2 separate regions of the Homo sapiens genome follow, and region 2 is linked to region 1. Evidence: fine-mapped expression QTL. Tissue or cell type: whole blood. Region 1 holds a variant in brackets; the other region holds the start of a gene. All regions are shown on one strand. Distances are from middle to middle.

The links. PIP is the estimated chance that this variant, and not a neighbour inherited with it, causes the effect.
Region 2: it holds the start of HK2, and the variant in region 1 is fine-mapped to the expression of HK2 in whole blood (INTERVAL, PIP 0.95).

The regions. Positions count from the first base shown.
Region 1 is chr2:74,858,224-74,868,274 of GRCh38, reverse strand. HK2 (hexokinase 2) reads right to left here. Exons shown (of 18, transcript NM_000189.5): 3 at 491-639. Among named protein-coding and RNA genes, the nearest start is that of HK2, 29 kb to the right of the region's middle. The variant T/C (reference allele first, on the strand shown) is at 5,833.
Region 2 is chr2:74,829,014-74,839,064 of GRCh38, reverse strand. HK2 (hexokinase 2) reads right to left here and starts at 4,938. Exons shown (of 18, transcript NM_000189.5): 1 at 4,422-4,938. The coding sequence starts at 4,484. It overlaps HK2-DT (HK2 divergent transcript), which reads left to right and starts at 5,078. Exons shown (of 1, transcript NR_185897.1): 1 at 5,078-6,410. RefSeq lists silencers at 1,701-1,858, 3,797-4,046, 4,967-5,196, 5,377-5,446 and enhancers at 1,669-2,184, 3,497-3,566, 3,344-4,220.

The DNA of each region.
Region 1 (10,051 bases):
CAGCCCTAGGGATGCAGCCTCCCTTCTCCAACCCCAGCATGATAACAAGGAAAGCAGGTTTACCTCAAGGCCACCCCAAAGACAAATAATGAGTCTAAAAATATCTCCCCAGCGTGTTCTACTCATGGTCAGAAATTCCTTTCCCAGGAGGGAGCCTTGTGTGGGAGAGGGAACAGCCGACCACGAATCAGAGGGCTTGACCTCTTCCAAGCCCTGAGGCCCGAGATGTGACAACACTGAACAGCGTCTTACTTGGATTTCATGCTTCTTCTCTAGTCACTCCTTTTAATACTGAGTACATGTTGGGTATAAAATACAACCAGAACAGCCTGAGCTCCGGCTGAGAGGGAGCCCTTACAGCTGTGCTGGCATCCATGAGTGTCTTGGGTGACTGCCTATCCACACGCTGGGAGCGGCTGGAGAAAGTACAGAAAGAACATGCCAAGGAAGTTTTTTGTCACCAGGGGCTGCCCTGAGAGAAGGGTCATACCTGGGTGCCACTGCCTCGCATGATGTCCTCAGGGATGGCATAGATCTGATTCTCCATCTCCACCTTCTGGAGCCCATTGTCCGTTACTTTCACCCAAAGCACACGGAAGTTGGTCCCTCCAAGATCCAGAGCCAGGAACTCTCCGTGTTCTGCAGAGAAAGGAAGGGCCACTATTAATTTTGGGCAAAATTCTTCCAGGAACCAACCGAGACTTAAAACTCCAAGTCCCTCCAGGAATATCTGTGGGTAAGGGGCGGCCAGTGGGATTCACTCCTCTACAGACATTACATATAGTCTAATTTCATGCTATACACCTTTACATTATTATTTTTTTAATTCTCAGAGCTTTATTAAAACTGGAAACTCACAGGGCTGTTTTTTTTTTAATCCCTCACTCCCTTCCCATCCTTTCCTCTGAGTCTCCAAAGTCAATTGTATTATTCTTATGCTTTTGCATCCTCATAGCTTAGTTCCCAATTATGAGTGAGAACATATGATGTTTGGTTTTCCATTCCAGAGTTACTTCACTTAGAATAATGGTCTCCAATCCCATCCAGGTTGCTACGAATGCCATTAATTTGTTCCTTTTTATGGCTAAGTAGTATTCTGTCGCATATACATTACTTTTATAATTCAATCAACAATATAAGACAGTTTCGCATCCAACGATGTGCTCACCCCCTCCTGAGAGCCGACTACCTCCTCAGTGCTTTCAGCAAGCCCCATGCCAGGGGTGCATGCCTCCATCCTGTTCCTCATACCCCCAGAACACCAAATTGCAAGCACGGTATTAAATTTACTTTCTAATGTTTGCATATTATGTTTGCATATTGCAATTGCAGTACTAAATTTACTTTCTAATGTTTGCATATTATGAGGGCCATGTCCTGCAGCAAGACCAGAGGGGTCATGTGATGGAGTGGAATGAGGACCAACACATTGAGGCCTGGTGAATAAGGCAAGCAGGTGCCCCCTCAAAGGATCTCAGGCTTATCAGAATGCAAGAGAATGCTGACCCCAGAGCATGTATGTACGACAAGAGTCAGGCCACTGAAGCAACAGAAAAGCTGTGGGGGAGCAGGAAAGAGGATGAGTGAGACTCCAGAAAGGAGCCACAGACACAGATGGGTGAAGACTGTCATGTGTCACTGGGAAGGTGCAGTTCCTACCCTCCAGGAAACAGCAGTGTAGACAGGAAACATCCAGATCCTGGGTGATAATACCACCGACTATGGGGAAGGGCCCCATTGTGTGGCACAGAATGAAAGTGCTGAAGAGGCGCGGAACCTGCAGCAGGGCAGGGGCTGGCGGAGCAGGCAAGGCGCATCCGCAGGTGACTGCCCCAACTGCGAGCAGCACCGCCAGTCTTCTGCTGCCCTGCCACAACCTTCTCAAAGGATACAAGGATACAAGGCAATTTCCTGGGGGGTTCACTTATTGGCATGTTTGTCAACACTCAACCCCTTTCCTGGTGGGAGAACAGCACTGAAGTGAAGCGGAATGGGTCAGAGGTCAGGGAGATGCTCTGACTCAATAACCCAAGAATGTTTGTTTTACACCCAGGTGCACTCAGCACCTCCAGCACTTAGGCCCTGAGAAAAGTCACATCTGACCAGCTCCCTGAGAACACCACCCACAGTCCCTAGGGTCCCAAGAGGGAAAACGGTAGACATCATCCACCAGAGACCACACAACCAGAAGTGTGTCAGGCGATGTGACACACGGAGACTGGCTCTGGAGCCCACATCACCTGCTCCAGAACCCCGGCCACTATTTAGCAGAGGCAAGTTCCTGAGCCTCTGAGCCTCAGCTGCTTCATCTCTAAAATGGGAACATTGCATCTCATTGGGTTGCTGTGAGGGGAAAAATTAGACACACAAGTGTGGTGCAGGACCAAGAACTCAGGACACACTCAGTAAGTACTAGGTACTCTCTCTCCGGGCTCTAGGCAGACCCTGTCCCACAGCCTCACTTGACTCTTCCAGGCCAACGAAAGCAGAAGGGATTGCAGAAACCTGTCCAAGAAAAGTCACTGGAATTGGCTCCAGTGACGGCAGCATTCCTCCTTAGGGGCACTAATTTTCCATTTCCTGCCCAGTGACTAGAGGTGGCCCCACCACTAGCTACAGCTGCGGGCTAGCTACAGCAACATCGCCCTCATCTGGGGTTAGCCTGCCTGCCTCATGGCCATGGGTGGCTTTTCCAGACACTCCAGCTCTGAGCCTTCCCTGGTAGTGGGAACTCAGCCAAATTCTAGGAAACACAACGTGGTGGCTGTCATGAGGGATGAAAGGGATATCAAAGATGAAATGCCTCATCAGCACTCTCAAGTCCAGGATACACGCGATCCGCTGAATCAGTGACCACAGGGGACCGAGGTGGCGAGGCTGCCCCTGGTGGGTCATCATCCGAGGCCAGCCCAGCTGGACTCAGAGGCCACAGCTCCACCAAGAACGGGTGGTGTGCAGGATTTTCTGATGGACTGAAGGGAAAACACAAATAATAAAGTATTGCTGATGAACCTGTTCCCAGGAAGGAGGTCCTCTCTTGCTTTGCTTACAGGACTCCTCTGGAACACACATTCCCTGACACCCCTCCTCCCTGCAGCCCTCCTCCACACACATAGGAAGCCACAACCACCATAGCCAATGACTGCATTCCTTCCAAGTCCGGAATCTGAGGCAGGCCTAGCACTGTGACTCGGCAATCCTGAGACGGGCCCTCTCGTAACGCCCACGCATGGTTACGTGCCCATGCCAGAGCAGTGGTTAGGCACTGGACCTTAGACAGGTAGGCAGGCCTCATTTTGAATTCCAGCTCAGCAGCTTCACTACCTGTGTGGTGTGGGCACATCACAGGGCTCTCTGAGCATGTCACCTCACCTGTAGAACAGGATTCATAATGCTGACATCTCCCAGCGGTTGTGATGCTTACGTGAAACATGGACTATGTTGTATGTGAACATATAGAAACACACAGGCTGGGTGTGGTGGCTCATGCTTGTATTCCCAGCACTTTGGGAGGCCAAGGCGGGCAGATTACTTGAGGTCTGGAGTTTGAGACCAGCCTGGTCAACATGGTGAAACCCTGTCTCTACTAATAATACAAAAATTTGCCGGGCATGGTGGCGTAGCCCTGTAATCCCAGTTACTTGGGAGGCTGAGGCAAGAGAATCACTAGAACCCAGGAAGTGGAGGTTGCAGTGAACTGAGATCTCGCCACTGTACCCCAGCCTGGGCAATAGAGCCAGACTCTGTCTCAAAAAAAAAACAAACAAATGACAACAACAACAAAGAAGAAACACAGTAAATTATTCCTCCGTTAATAGATCCTATCAAGGTACTTGTTCCCTTTCTCCCTGTCAAGGCCATGGAGGTTTGTGGCATGCTCTGGTGTCCAGTAAGGCAGGACAGAGGTTTGGTATAACTATAAGTTGGCATTAATTTGTGGGTGCCAAAAAATGGCATGTCCAGAGTAGCTACAACATAGGGCTCACGTGACATGGCTATAAACGCACAGCAAATACCATTGCCAAGGACTTTCTTTCGTTCTTAAGAAGGTCAGATCTGTTTCCAAAAGGGCTCTAGTGGCTCTAGTGGCACTGTGGAGGGCTGGGATAGCACAAGGAAGCAGCTCAAGGGCTGCTGCCACAGTTGAGCTGAGCAGCAGTGAGGGCATGAGCTCCAGGGCCATGTAGGGTGGCCAACCATCCCAGTTTGCCCAGGATGGAGGGGTTTCCTATGACATGGGACTTTCAATGCCAAAACTGGGAGAGGCTCAGGCAAATCAGAACACTGGACTGTATTTGATCCAACCTTAGAGCCTCTGGCTCTTCCTTGTCACTCAATGCCTGAGGCATGCAGCCGTAAACTTGGAGGTGGGTCAAAGTCACAAACGCATACTTTCACATTCAGTTCCTGAACCAGCCCTATATTTATAACTTAATGCCCCTAAAGGGACCTGCCCTTTCTGCCCTACAATATCATTTCCAGTGGCCCCAGGTAACTGCACTGAACATTCCAATCATCCTCTATGGGGTGACTCTGGGTTGAGGGGATCTTGTTTTTTTCCTTTAGTTTTCAAGCACCTGCTAGCACACAACAGTGGACTGCTCTGAGAATGTATGGCATATACTCCAAATGAAACGAGGACCGAAAAGATACATCTCCAAGTCCTAAGCAGGTAATGTAGCAAGACACAGGTCTCAAGGCACGTATTTTCCATGTACCCGGAATCGCCATGATCACTACCACACCTGGCAGCCTCTTTTTAAACCCCAGGATTCCAATTACTCCATTACAATGCAATGCCGGCCACCATTCAAGAGCTCAGCCATACAGAAGTATTCAATACTCCGTGTCATTAAAGGCACTGAATCACAGTTAACGCTGGTGTCTGGTACAGACTAGGAATGGAGTGATCTGATCTTCTACATCATTTGTTTTCAAACCATTTTAAGCAACAGAATGCTTATTTCCAAATAAAATTGGTGGGCCAAATGCCACAACGTAAAATAGAGAAAAACAGAGCTGCTCCAACTGAAGGGAGGGGTGTGGAACACGTAAAACACATGACTGGCACCCTAAAGCTCCTAGGACACCTCTTGGAATGCACCACTCTGGTGCTCTTTTTACCCAGGAAGTGTTTCTTAAGCTCAAAATACGTGCCAGTCACAGAGAGGTGTAATTAGCCCCACAGATGTGAAACCACTCTTCAAAGGGTTAAAACATGATTATGTTTCAATATTGTGTAAGCTCTGAGCATGTTCAGCTTTTTAGGCAGGCAGACCTGGGTTCAAATCCCACTCTAACATGCATTAGCCATGTGGCTTTGGGCAATTTATTAGAAATCTGACACTCAGATTTCATCATCTGTTTTAAAAGGGTAACGATAACCTCCTTCTAGTCAGCACCTCCCTCCACAACCCAGAACAAGAACACAGGAAAACACACACATATACACGCACACATACACACACGCACCTTGTCAAGATTCAGTGCAAGGAAGTGTAAGGCGTTTGGCACAACGCCTGACAATGTAAGTGCCATCTGCTGTACTGAGGCTATCTATCAGTACAATCTTCAATTTATATCGCCTGGACTACGTAAGTACCCCAATTAACTTGCTGTGTGCTAGCTCTGGATGTATGTCTCCGCTGTACAGTTGTTAATATAATGCAGAGCAACCAAGATAAGGGCTTCCTTCAGGTTTAACCAGCTTCCATGCAACGTATCACCAGCCCGGTCTCCCTTTATCACATCATGTGCTTGCATTATATGGCCCGATATCTCTAATTGTTTTGTCTACATGGGCCTTATCTCCCCAGCACAACTTTCACTCTT[T/C]AAAGGGCACGAGGCAGCTTAGCACACTGCTGCTGCACAGAGGACCAAGCCTCGGAGAGGACTGTTGAATGAGCTGAACAGCTAGGCCTAGGTTAGTAAGAGAAGAATCCACACATTGTGCTAGCAGCACAGCACCAATGTGCCACTGGTGGTGTGCTTAAAAGCCCAGGCATTAGCAATTTGGCTGGCCAAGTTCCAATCCCAATGCTGCCACTTGCTCACTGTGACTTTGGGCAAGTTGCCTAATTGCTCCAAATCTATTGCCTTTTTCTGTAAAGTGAAGTTCAGCGTACCTACCACTGGATGACTGTAAGAAATGATGAGATAGCTCAAACACAGCGTTCAGCACAGTACCTGGCACTAACGATGTCTACAATTTTTATCATCATCATCATCACCGTCACCATCAGCATCATGGTTCCCTGCTCTCTAGAGGGTTTAAGTCTGGCTAGAGGATGGAGGTATACTTACCTGTGAACATAATTCACAATTCCGAGGTGAAGAAGAGTCAAATGATCGATCTGACACTGCCTTACCCTCACTCTGTCTCATAAGGCATAGTTATAACCAAACGATCTTGCCAAGACAAGGGTGATAAAGGCACCACAGTTACTTCATTTCTAAGTTAGAACATGCGGCTGGCACATTTTCAGTTGGGTTGTACTTGAGCTTCTTATTGGAATGATACAAAGCCAACTCGTATTTAGGATCCATTTAAAAAGATAATCATCTGATTTTCCCTAGAAACTTTGGTTCAGCAGTACAAGCCAATGTAAACTGTGAATCTTATGGCCGTGGAGTCAGGACTATCTATGCTTACATCCCAACTGTCACCATCTGCCCACAGGTGACCTTGGCAGCCATCAATCCTTTTTTAGCCTTGGTTGCCTCATTTTTAAAGTGAGAATGACTCTCTTGTAAAGTTTTTGTGGAGAGTAAAACAGATTTATGTAAATGGCCTAGTACAGACACCATGGGTGCTCATTAAATGCTATCAATTCTTCCTGCATTCCCTTTTTTTTTTTTTCGGAGTCTCACTCTGTCGCCCAGGCTGGAGTGCAGCAGCATGATCTCAGCTCACTGCAACCTCTGCCTCCCAGATTCAAGCGATTCTCGTGTCTCAGCCCCCCAGTAGCTGGGATTACAGGTCCATGCCACCACAACCGGCTAATTTTTTATATTTTTAGTAGAGATGGGGTTTCAACATGTTGGCCAGGCTGGTCCTGACCTCAAGTGATCCACCCACCTTGGCCTCCCAAAGTGTTAGGATTACAGGCGTAAGCCACCGTGCCCGACCCCTGCATTCCCTTTTAAAATGGAACTGTCCTCTGAAAGCCAGGCCCCTATGTGTGGCCCCTATGTGTGTGGTGGGGCCCCTGACAGAACTGCGTTAGGGCTGGTACCACAGTCACACGCAGGGTTGTGGCACAGATTAGGGCTGCCTACAGAGAGGTCAAGATGGTGTGTTTCCTAGCAAACGCAAATGAATGCTTTCTTTAATTAACTCTCCACTGAAAAAAAGAAACAAGGACATACAGACAACAAATGCTATTGAGGATATGGAGCAGGCAGAGCTCTCATACATTATTAGTGGGAGTATAAATGGTTCAACAATTTGGGGGAAATGTCTGGCAGTTTCTAAAAATTAAACATATACCAAATTCTATGAATGACCCAGTAATTCCACTCCTAGTTGTTTATACAAGGAACTAAAAACGTGTCCACAAAAGGGCTTGTGCAATAATGTTCATAGCAGCTTTACTCAAATAGCCAAAAACTGGAAACTGCCCGGGTGTCCATCAATATTCATATCAGATTCTAATCATACCATGGAATCAGCAGCCAAAAGGAACGAGACACTGATAGACACAACACAGATAAATCCCACATTATGACAAATAAAAAAAGACTTGCATAAAAAACAAATACTGTGTGAGTCGATTTATATGTGAAGTTCTGGAACAGGCAAAACTCACATATGTGGAAAATAGTAGAATGTGATTGCCTCTGGGGGGATCAGGTACAGGGATTGACTGGGAAGGGGCTCAAGGTAACTTTCTGGGGTGATGGTAATGTTCTGTATCTTGATGGAGGTTTTTTTTAGTTGTTTAAATTTATGAGGTGCAAACATAATTTTGTTACATGGATATACTGCACAATGGTGAAGTGAGGGCTTTTAGTGTATCCAACACCCACTACATCCGTTAAGTAATTTCTCATCATCCACACCACCCCCCACCCTCCTACCCTCATGCCCCCCACCCTCCTACCCTCACCCTTCCAAGTCTCCATGGTCTATCATTCCACTTTCTATGTCCATGTGGACACACTGTTTAGCTCCCACTTATAAGTGAAAACGTGCGGTATTTGTCTGTTTTGGAGCTGTTTCACTTAAAATAACAGCCTCCAGTTCCATCCATGATGCTGCAAAATACATTATTTCATTCTATTTTAAGACTGAACAGTATTCTATTATGTATATATACCACAGTTTCTTTATCCAATCATCTGTCCATTGATGGGCATCGACTCCACATCTTTGCTATTGTGAATGGTGCTGTGATAAACATACAAGTGCAGGCATCTTTTTGGTATGATTTCTTTTCCTTTGGGTAGATACTCAATAGTGAGATTGCTGGATGGAATGGCAGTTCTATTTTTAGTTCTTTGAGAAATCTCCATACTGTTTTCCATAGAGGATGTACTTATTTACATTCCCACCAACAGTGTATAAGCATTCCCTTTTCTGATGGAGGTTGTATTAAACAGGTGTATTTGTCAATTCATCAGATAATACTCTTTTTTTTTGAGATGGAGTCTCGCTCTGTGGCCCAGGCTGGAATGCTCTGCCTCCCGGGTTCACACCATTCTTCCTGCTTCAGCCGCCTGCCACCACGCCTGGCTAATTTTTTGTATTTTTAGTAGAGACAGGGTTTCACCGTGTTAGCCAGGATGATCTCGATCTCCTGACCTTGTGATCTGCCCGCCTCAGCCTCCCAAAGTGCTGGGATTGCAGGCATGAGACACCATGCCCGGCCTTCTATTTATTTTTTTATCAGATAATACTCTTAAGATTTATTTCACTTCATCTAGATCTTACATCACAAGAAAATACAGCAAATATTGAACTCTAGTTACTATGTAAGTATACGTCTGAACCCTAAAACTTCAGCATACATAGTAACTAGAGTTCAGTATTAGTATTTACTATACTTTCTCAGCAATTTATGTTTTGTAATGCATCAATTATAACAAGCTGGACTGATGGATAGAAGGATTGGGGGGTTGATAAAGCAAACCAAGTAAAATATAGATGACCACTATAGAATTCTTTCAACTTCTTAAAACTGTTTGGGAAAGAAGCAAAACGACAAATAGAGACCATTTTTAATGTATTCTGGCTGACACCAAATTCAGTCATTGAGTAAGACATTCCTGGACCGTTTATGTCTATTGCACTTTTAATTATGCCAACTGTGTTTCTTCACACTGTGTAGGCCACACAACCTATGAAGCACAGGTACTTCACGATTTACCTTGAACATTTCACCCCTACGGGGTTCAGTGGCTACTGACATTCCCTGCCTTCTCACACAAGAGCCCATAAGCCGTGATGGGGAGGCCTCCACCACAAATAAATGGCCTGAAACTTTCTGGTTTCTCCACATTTTCTAATAGGACTTTGATTACAATTAGATAATTGGAGCTGGTATAAGAGCTGGGGCCTGGTCTTCACTCCAAAATGCAGGGCCCCTGGTGATGGGGATGAACCCTCACACCTGCTCCCTTGATGCCAATCTTCCAAAATTAAAACCTGGGAGTCTTACACACCTTTTCTTAGTAAATTTGGCAATGAGAGTGCCTTTTGCAGTGGTGGTTTGTGGCTGCAGGAGTGTTTGTAACACATGTGAGAAAGTCACATATCTGATTCTCCCTTAATTCTCAGAAAACCGATCCCCCTGAAGTTTCCCCTTTTCACAAATGAGGAAATAGAGGATCACATCATAAATCGCTCTGAAGCACACAGCTTGAATTCAAACCCATTTGAACCTATAATTCTGATTCTCACCTCTCACCCCACACTGTCCTGAAACTACATATTTCGTGCCAGCAAGAAAGGAAATGCTCATCTAGAATCAAACTGGGCCAAGGATCATTTAAGGCAGTGGCTTTCAAACTGCAAAGTGAAAAACATTTAGCAGGTTCTGACTAGCAACTT
Region 2 (10,051 bases), 29 kb after region 1:
TGAAGGTCACCCCTTGCTCATACAACAAGGAATCTACATGAGCTATGTCTATTACAGGATTCCAGTGCAAATGTCACCAGTCTATGCGTATTAAAACAATTTGGTCAATGGTCAGAGAAAGGAGTATATACTTCATTTTATCTCTATGGTTAACCCTGATTCTCCATTCTTAAATGACAAAATCCTGCATCTTGTATACTAACTTATCTCAATCAATAGAAAGAATCAGCCAGGCGCGGTGGCTCACTCCTGTAATCCCACCACTTTGGGAGGCGGAGTCAGGCAGATCACGAGGTCAGGAGATTGAGACCATCCTGGATAACACGGTGAAACCTCGTCTCTACTAAAAATACAAAAAAATACCCGGGCATGGTGGCAGGCGCCTGTAGTCCCAGCTACTCGGGAGGCTGAGGCAGGAGAATGGCGTGAACCCGGGAGGTGGAGTTTGCAGTGAGCTGAGATTGCGCCACTGCACTCCAGCCTGGGCGACAGAGCGAGACTCCGTCTCAAAAAAAAAAAAAAAAAAATAGAAAGAATCTTCCATCTCTCCATAGGCAGGACACACAGTCTTGATTGCTGAAGGACAGGAAACTCTCCTCCCTTTCTCTCTCCCTCCTCAGGACCGGCCTCAGGTCATGCTTTGGCCTCAGGTCATGCTTTGGATGAAGAGATAACTGCGAACTACCCCTCCAAGTGTCCACCCATATACCATCCCTTTAGCCTAAGACTAGCTGGCCCTGCCCAGCTCCTCCACTTCCTGCAGCCCTGGTTTAGCTTCTTTCTCCAGAAAGGTCTCCTCCTTTACTCTTGTACTCACTGAGCACCTCACCAGTGGCCAGGAACTGCAGCGACAAACCTAACAGCCAAGATTCTCCCTGCCCTGAGGAAGGAACCCAAACTGAAAACCATCAACTCTAACAGATGGTGGAATGAAACAAATGTCATGCAAGGTTCAAACACACTAATGTTGGCACACAGGAGGGGGAGAAGGAAGCAGAAAGAAAATTAAGACAGTAAACTGCATTTGAGCTGGAAGGGGTTAAGTGGAAAGAAGCCAAGCAGAGTTCAGGGCCACAAAAATGGCAAGGGCAGGCCTCGTGCGGTGGCTCACGCCTGTAATCCCAACACTACGGGAGGCTGAGGCAGGTGGATCACAAGGTAAGGAGATCGAGACCATCCTGGCCAACATGGTGAAACCCTGTCTCTACTAAAAATACAAAAAATAGCTGGGCATGGTGGCGCACGCCTGTAATCCCAACTACTCAGGAGGCTGAGGCAGGAGAATCGCTTGAACCTGGGAGGCAGAGGTTGCACTAAGCAGAGATAGCGCCACTGCACTCCAGCCTGGTGACAGAGTGAAACTGTGTCTCAAAAAAAAAAAAAAAAAAAAAAGACAAGGGCAAAAGGACCTAGTGTGAACAGGCAGGACAGAGGAATGAAAGGATGGAGAGGAAGATGAGGCTAAGCTGGGGGGTAGAAGCGGGAGGCAATTAAGAGCTGTAGAGAGCTCCTGAAATGATCCAGTCTGGCTCCAGAAAGAGTTTTAGGGACACCCTTAGCAGGCCTCCAAAGTAACCAAGAGACCAGTTGACAGAGTTAGAGAGTTGATGAAAATGAATCCAGGACTCTCAGCTGGAGTAGCCAGAGGGTACTGGTGCCACTGATCAAACCAACAGAAGAGCTAGTTCCATCTGTGGTCATGATGGGTGGGGGTGCTACCAGCAGCCAGGAGTGGGCAGAGGCCCGGGCCAGGAGCCCGCTCACATTCCCCAGAGACAGGCAAGTATGTGCTCAAGAGCATGGTGCTCTAAAGCCAAATGCATGGCTTCGATTCCCAGCTCGTACAGAAAAGCTGGAGACCTTGGGCAAGTTACCCCTGGGCCTCAGTTAAACAGGGATGCTAATAACAATCAGTCTTCACCTCATGGGGCTGATTTGAATGTTAATAAGCTGACATACCTAAGAGCTTAGAACAGTGCCAGGTACACAGTAGGTGCTCTGCAGTCGCTCCTGAGTTCCAATTGGCAAAAGTGAGGAAATAACCCTGATTCTCATCTCTAATGCCCCAAAACACTGGGCTTGTCCATCAGGAGACGACAAGTGACCTCGTTGGGCAGGTGAACCCAAGCCTTCCACGTCCTCAGACTACAACCCAGAATATGTAAGATTATCTTATCACAAGGGGATTTCAGAAGGGTCCAAATCAAAAGGTCTTTTCAAAAGACTCTAAAGTTATACTAAATTTTCATTCTTCTCTCTTAATTCTTCTTTCCAATGGCAGCTCAGAAAGATGGTTCCAAGATACTCTGAGTCTCTGCTTTCTATGTAACTGCCACTGGAATCAAACAGCTTCGCTCACCTAAGCTGGGAGTCAAATCCCAGGTTCTGACAATTACTGAGTTAAAGGCCTGATTCAATTCTGCCCCTATTGGTAGTTTAGAGGAAATACACCCAAGGGTCTTCAGGGACACTTCTCAAACTGACAGGTGGCTGCAAGGGTAGAGAAAACCTACAGGAATGACAGTTGCACACTGCAGCGCTTAATAATCGCAACTCCATAAAGTGGACAAGCCTACTGTTATTATTGCATTTCACAAAGAGAAACGGGCTGTCCAAAGAGGCTCAGGGTGCTATGGTTAATAAACCACAAGACAGAGATTACAACTCATTTCCAGATACCCTGGTTAATTCCCGTTCCACTCTGGGGGAAGAGAGATGACCCCCATTCCAAGATTGAGAGTGGTATAACTCCAACGGGGTTCCAACCCTGGTGCCCTCCTCTGGATTGAGGAAGAGTAAATTTATGCAAGGATTCAAATGTCCTGGGGTAATACCCAAAGGAGAACTCCCTGAGATTAATGACGCTCCACTGTGTATTTTAGGACTTGCCAAGAGATGATAGCCTTCCCCAAGAGTTCTTAGAAGTTGAGAAGTTACCAAGATCCTGCCAGCTCAAATCAAAGGCACGTTTTTAAGTAAACTGAATCAAGGTGCAGAGCCACATCCCAGGAATTAGAGAATAACAGCCATTTACAAACAGTAAAACCCAAGTAAATCAACCGCCTCTGCTCGCTCCTCCAGACTTGAGGCTGGGTAACTTCTGCTTTTCTTGGAGGTTCACGCGCCATCACTACATTAATATGCCTCCTATGCCCTCGGGACCGCCAGAATGGGAATATGAGCAGGTTGTCGCACAGAACGGTAATGGCAAGACATTTTCCCAAAAATGTGTTCCCATCAGATATTGAAATTCCAAGTATGTAACTGAGCAACGCTCCGTTGCCTCACAGCTCTTAAAACAACCTCCCTCCAGCTAATCCCCTCCCAACTTGTCCCCTACCTCAAATCGTAGCCCAGGCCCGGGCCAGGAGCCAATCCCCTAATCCCGGGCATTTCAGAAACTCAATTCTGAGCGCGCCCCTGGCCCTGCCCGTCCCCGGCCCCGGCCCCATCCCCACCCCCATACCCCGAGGCGGGGAATGAGAGCTTCCCGGCTTGGCCTGAGGCTCTTTCTTATGTAAATGACCCGGCCGCGGTGAGCGCTCAGCCATAGGGAGCTGCGGAGCCAGGTGGGAACAGACAGGTCGAGGCTTAAGGAAAAAAAAGCTCGTTTTCGGAAGGACATAAATCTCAAGAATCTCAAGTAATCCAGGAACGCGGCGCGTTGGCCTCTCCGAGTAACTTTTAGGGCAAACCAGAAAGTAACAACCAAAGTCCTCCCCTTACTCAGAGGCAGATCCTGAGGACACGAGGCTGGGCGGTCCCGAGGCTGATTTGGAGGGGCGGGGGTTAATGGGGGACGCCCCTCGCCGAGCCTCAGTTCCGGGCGCCACAGTTCCGGGGAGGGGGCGCGGCGGGCGGAGTTCCTCTGCCCCTTTCCTACTCCTTCCCGGGTCAGCTTCTCCTCGAGCCCACCCCCGCAGGGCCGCGGGGAAGGAGAAGGGAACCGCTCGTCTCCTACACGCGGTCCGCGAGCGCGGACGGCCCCCGGCGGCCCCACGCGGCAGCGGAGCAGCCTCCCGCAGCCACGATTCTCTCCACGTGCTCTCGCCGGAACTCGCGCTGCAGAAGGGGGCTCCCTCCCACGTGGGCGCAGCAATCCCTGACTACCTGCGGGGTGACCCGCCCCTCCAGTAACAGGGAAAAAGGGACTGGGGGAGAGAGCGTGAGCGCGTGCCGGAGCTCAGGGAGGGAGGGCGCCCGGCGGAGCGCGACCTCGGCTCCCCGCCCGCGCGCACTCGCCGGCTGTGCTTAGCGGACGTGGCTCCTGGCGCCCAGGAGTGTCCCGGCTGCCCAAACTTTTTCCGCTCCCAGGCCCGGAGTAGGGAGGAAGCGGGTCCCCGCAGGGTCGAGGAAGAGACTGATGGAGGCCAGACCACTTTGCCAGAGCCCAGCCTGCCGCCCCGCCCGCGCTGACTTACCTTCTGCACTTGGTCATGGTTGAGCTCCGTGAAGAAGTAGGCAAGCAGATGCGAGGCAATCATCCTGCCGCGGCCCGACGGCGCAGAGTTGGGAAACCGAGGCGGAGACGCGAGAGGGGAGGCGGGCGGCGCGGTCCGACTGCTTTGTGCTGGGGCTCGGCTGCCGGGCCGGGAGCTGGGAGTCCGGACGGCGCACAAAGAAGGCTACCGGCGAGGGTGCGCCCGGCTGGCGGAGGGCGCGGGTCTCCGGAGACGTGATTTTGGCGTCACAACTGCTAGAAGGCGCCTCAGTTCTCTCCTGGCGACGTGTCCGGTTGTCCCACGTCAAGGCGCTAACTTCGGCCACAGGATCACTGAGGCTCAACTTGAGAAGAATCTCAGCCCGGCTCCACTCGGGCAGTGGGACCTCTCCGATTCACAGGCGCGTGGCTCGGGCCCGCGGATTTTCTTAGCTGGGTGACACGATGTTGCCAGCGGCAGCCCGGGACTCCTGCGCCGGAGTTTCATGCAACAATGTGGCTTATTGAGGGGCTGCCGGCCCGCGGGCCTCCGGATCAGTGACGTGCGCACGCCCATTGGCTGCGCGGGGAGGGTGTGTGCGCCCACGGACCGCCCGCCGCCGTGGCGCAGCCAATCATCGCTCACGGCTCGCGGGCGCGGCCGCTCAGACACCGGAGCCGGCAGCCTGGGGAGGCGCGCCGGGGGCGGGGGGCGGGGGAGGGGCGGGGCGCCTGAGATGGGACGTGTGGTCCGTGGCTAAAGGCTGGGACGGAAAGGCGCATGAGCCACCGCCGCGTCAGGCTCGGCTATGGGTGGGGGGAGCGTGATCGCGGACCCGGGGTGTGGGGCGACTGGAAAAACGGGCCTCTGGACCAGCACACGCCCTGTGCGGAGAGACACTGTCTGGCATCTCGGGATCATGTGAGGGGCTCCCACTGCCCAGTCACACGTCTAAAGCATCCTAGTTCTTACCTATTGTAGCACGGCCGGAAAGTGAGCCGCCTTAGCTGCTGATTGTACTAGAGCAGGCAATACAAGAGTCGGCCCATCCTCAAAACCACTGATAGGATGTGAGTTTCACTAACCCCGTTTTACAGATGAGGAAATTGAGGCAAGGCCAGGGCTCACACCTGTAATCCCAGCACTTTGGGAGTCCAAGGTTGGAGGGTTGCTTGAGACCAGGAGTTCATGACCAGCCTGGGCGACATAGTGAGACCCCCATCTTCCCAAATAAAAATAAATAAATCAGCCGGACATGGTGGCATGTGCCTGTAGTCCCTGCTGCTCAGAAGGCTAAGGTGGAAGGATAGCTTGAGCCCAGGAGTTCGAGGCTGCAGTGAGCTATGATCATACCACTGTACTCCAGCCTAGGTGACAGAGGGAGACCCTGTCTCAAAAAGAAAAGAGACTTACACGAGGTCACATAGCTAATAAGTGGCAGATAGGGAAGAGAACCCTTGTCCCTCTACTTTAAGGCCCTATTCGCTTGCCCCATTATCCCATGCTGCCTCTCTAAGAGCCAGAGAAGTAGGAGGTAGAAAAAGAGCATCTCTGCAGCTCTGGGACTGATGATGTGAATGAACTGGGTAGATGGTAAGTGTGTAACTGGGTGATCTTGGACATGGGATGGGGTGGGTGAGGAGGCTTACCAATGCTGAGAGGAGTGGAAGCTCCAACCCCAGCTAATGCTAGACACCAGACTCCAAATTTAAACACACAGTGGAAACTGGCAAGAATGAAATACTGACTTCAATACAGATTTCAAGAGACATGACATTAGCACTGGTGGAGAATGGCAAGCCTAAGGTTGGAAAAGGTTCAGGGAAGGAAGATGAAGGTCTGCCATGTTCTACTGAGGAGGAGTTTTTCAAACAGTGGGGTGCTGTCTGCAATGTGTACAGCCTTAAAATTATTATATAAGTAATCAATACTCATTGTTGAAAAATAATATATGGATAAACAGGAAAAATAAACAAAAATCATAATCCATCTAGCCTCTCAGCAAAACTTCCTTTTTTTTTTTTTTAAAGCAGGGACTCGATATGTTGCCCAGGCTGGTCTTGAACTCCTGGGCTCAAGCAGTCCTCCCACTTCAGCGTCCCAAATAGCTGGGATTACAGATGTGCTCAGCAAAACTTCTTGAGAACTATGTACCCTTCTAAATGCACGTCCTCAACCCTCCTTCCCTATACTCCACACAGAATTGAGCTCAAACTGCTTTTGTCATAGTCATCATAATGACCTACATGTTGCCAAATCTTGCATTCTCTTCTCTTCCCTGCCCTTGTCTTACTCCTTCTCTCAGGGATGTTGAGGACAGTTAATCACATCCTCCATCTGGACACACCTTCCTCTCTCAGTAAGAGCACCAGTGCTCCACTCTGAGGGTTTCTGGCTAACCTCACTCCCCAGGCTCCTGAGTCCCTGTTTGCTCTATTGGTAAATGCTGGGGTATTCGGGGCTGCCCTCCACCCTCTTCTCTGAACTAGTTACAGTTTCAAACTCCCTGAGGAGAAACTAACTTCCTAGCCCCATGACTGTTATATCATATGCATGCTGATGACTCACCATAGTAAATCTACAGCGAGGTCCTCTCCTGGAGTTGCAGGCTTATTTCTCCAGCTTGCCATTTGTCATCTCCACTGAAGTGACTAGCATATCACACTTAACATGTCCAAAGCTGAACTCAACTTTTTTTCCCAAATCTTTTTCTTTCCCAGTTGTCTCAGCAAATGGCATCGCCATCCACCCTAACTCGTCTTCGATTCCTTCTTGCCACTCACCCTCACAGCCAGTCAATCCATCAGCAAGCAGTTAATTCCACCTATAAAACAGACCGTGCATCTGACCACTTATCTCCATGCCCTTAGACACCTCCTGAGATCTTCCCACAGAATACTGCTTGGCATTCACACTAGCATGCTTTCCTCAAAAATACAAACTCTTTCTCACCCAAGGGTCTTTGCTCTTCCTTTTCCTTCTATCTAGAATATTCTTCTCCAGGCCTGTCTCCAACTCATTCTTCCTCCTCATTGACGTTCCACTCAGATACCTCCTCATGATGCAGGGCAGGCAGGCCCCAAAATTTGGACTTAGCCTGGGAAGATTTTTGGCTTCACCCAGTAAAGAATTCAAGGGATGCCGGGCGCGGTGGCTCACACCTGTAATCCCAGCACTTTGGGAGGCTGAGGTGGACGGATCACGAGGTCAGGAGATCGAGACCATCCTAGCTAACACGGTGAAACCCCATCTCTACTAAAAAAAAAAAAAATACAAAAAATTAGGCGTGGTGGCGGGCTCCTGTAGTCCCAGCTACTCGGGAGGCTGAGGCAGGAGAATGGCGTGAACCCGGGAGGCGGAGCTTGCAGTGAGCCGAGATCGCGCCACTGCACTCCAGCCTGGGCAACAGAAAGAGACTCCATTTCAAAAAAAAAAAAAAATTCAAGGGCAAGCAGGTGGCATTAGACAGCAGCTTATATTGAAGTGGCAGTGTACATCAGGAGCAGAGGCACTGGTCTTTGCAGAGCAGGGCTACCCCATAAGGCCGTGTGCCCAGAGTAGCAGCTCAGAGGCAGCTCTGCACTCATATTTCTACCCACTTTTAGTTAACATGCAAATTAAGGGGCAGGTTATACAGAAATTTCTAGAAAAAGGTTGGTAACGGGTTGTTGAGTCATTGCCATGGAAAGGGGCAGTGACTTCTAGGTGTTAAATCTGGAACTCTAATCTAGAGTCTGGTCCCGAGTCTTAGCCCCCACCTCCAGAGTCAAGTCCCCACCTTCTACCTCATCAGGCTTTCCTTGACCAGTTTATCTCAAATAGTTCCCCAAGTCACTATCACTTGGCCCTAGTTGATTTCCTATTTATTTTCGCTATGTTCTTCCTCTCCTCAATAGATGATAAGCTAAAAGACAGCAGGGTCTGTGTCTGTCATTCCTTCAAGTTTGCAGTGCCTAAAATGGTGCCTGACGCATGGCAGACATGCAATAAACATTTATTGAATGAATTCATAGAAGAATCTTAGAGATGACTACTGTTCACATGTTGTGTAACAATACACACACACATAGAGTTTATAGTTTTATATATTATTTCCCAAATCTTTTCCCATTTCTCTGTCTACCCTAGATCATATGCCCAGTTATCTCTCACCTGACTGGAACAGCCTCATAACTGGGCTTCCCTCTTCAGATATAGACACCATAAATATATAGACTTAGATATTTAACAAAGATTCTTTGTTTGTTTGTTGTTTGTTTTTTGTTTTTTTTAGATAGGGTCTTGCTCTATCGCCCAGGCTGGGGTGCAGTGGCACAATCTCGGCTCACTGCCACCTCCGCCTCCTGGGTTCAAGCGATTCTCCTGCCTCAGCCTCCCAAATAGCTGAAATTATAGGCACTCACCACCATGTCCAGCTAATTTTTATATTTTTAGTAGAGACAGGGTTTTGACATGTTGGCCAGGCTGGTCTCAAACTCCTAACCTCAAGTGATCGCCCATCTCAGCTTCCCAAAGTGCTGGGATTATAGACATGAGGCACCACACCTGGCCCCAAGATTCTCAAAGCAGGAAATTATACAATCGCGTTTGCTTTTTTAGGGCCATAACTGCCCTCCATGTGGATGGGGAGGGAAAGAGGTCAGAGACCAAAGGCAGAAAGAGGCAGAAGCTATAAGGTAAGACTAGGACCTAAGCCAAGATGAGAGTGGGGCAGGGAGGAAGGTTATGGGTTTAGGTATTGTGAAGTCAGAGGTGGAACTGATGGATTTGGCTGGGGTGGGTGAAGGAAAATGAAGAGGAGGATGCCTGCTGCCTAGAATCGGATGGAAATTCAATAGCCTGGTGCTACAAAATGTATTGTCTCCAGGCAGGTAGAACCAAAGCCAGTGGGGTTGGGTCAGCTATGATACTTTCTTCACACACTAGTTTTAATGCCTCTTCTCCACTCCCCTCTGTGGTCCCATTTCATGTGAACCGGATAATAATCATAAGGAACTTTAAGTACATGTTATCTCTTACAAAGTTCCCAGTAATCCTGGGAGGTGGTTGGAATCAGTATTGTTATAGGCCAGGCACAGTGGCTCATGCCTGTAATCCCAGCACTTTGAGAGGCCGAGGTGGGCGGATCATGAGATCAGGAGATCGAGACCATCCTGGCTAACACGGTGAAACCCCATCTCTACTAAAAATACAGAAAAAATAGCCGGGTATGGTGGTGGGCGCCTGTAGTCACAGCTACTCAGGAGGCTGAGGCCGGAGAATGGCGTGAACCCGGGAGGCGGAGCTTGCAGTGAGCAGAGATCATGCCACTGCACTTCAGCCTAGGGGACAGAGCGAGACAGGTCTCAAAAAAAAAAAATTGTTATTAACCCCAATTGATACACAACAAACGGAGGGGAGGCTACCCACATAAGGCTGACTTGTTTCTGTGGTTCTTCTGCCTCTGAACTCCATTCCTCAAGTTTATTATTTATTGAATCTCAGATCTCTCTTATACATACGTGCACATGTACACACATGCACACACAGAGATGTTGAAAATTGAAGAGACAGATGGTCATGTAATTTATATTCCACAGCCCTAGGAAGGAAATCAATCAGCAAAGATTAGTAAACCCTTACAGTGTTCA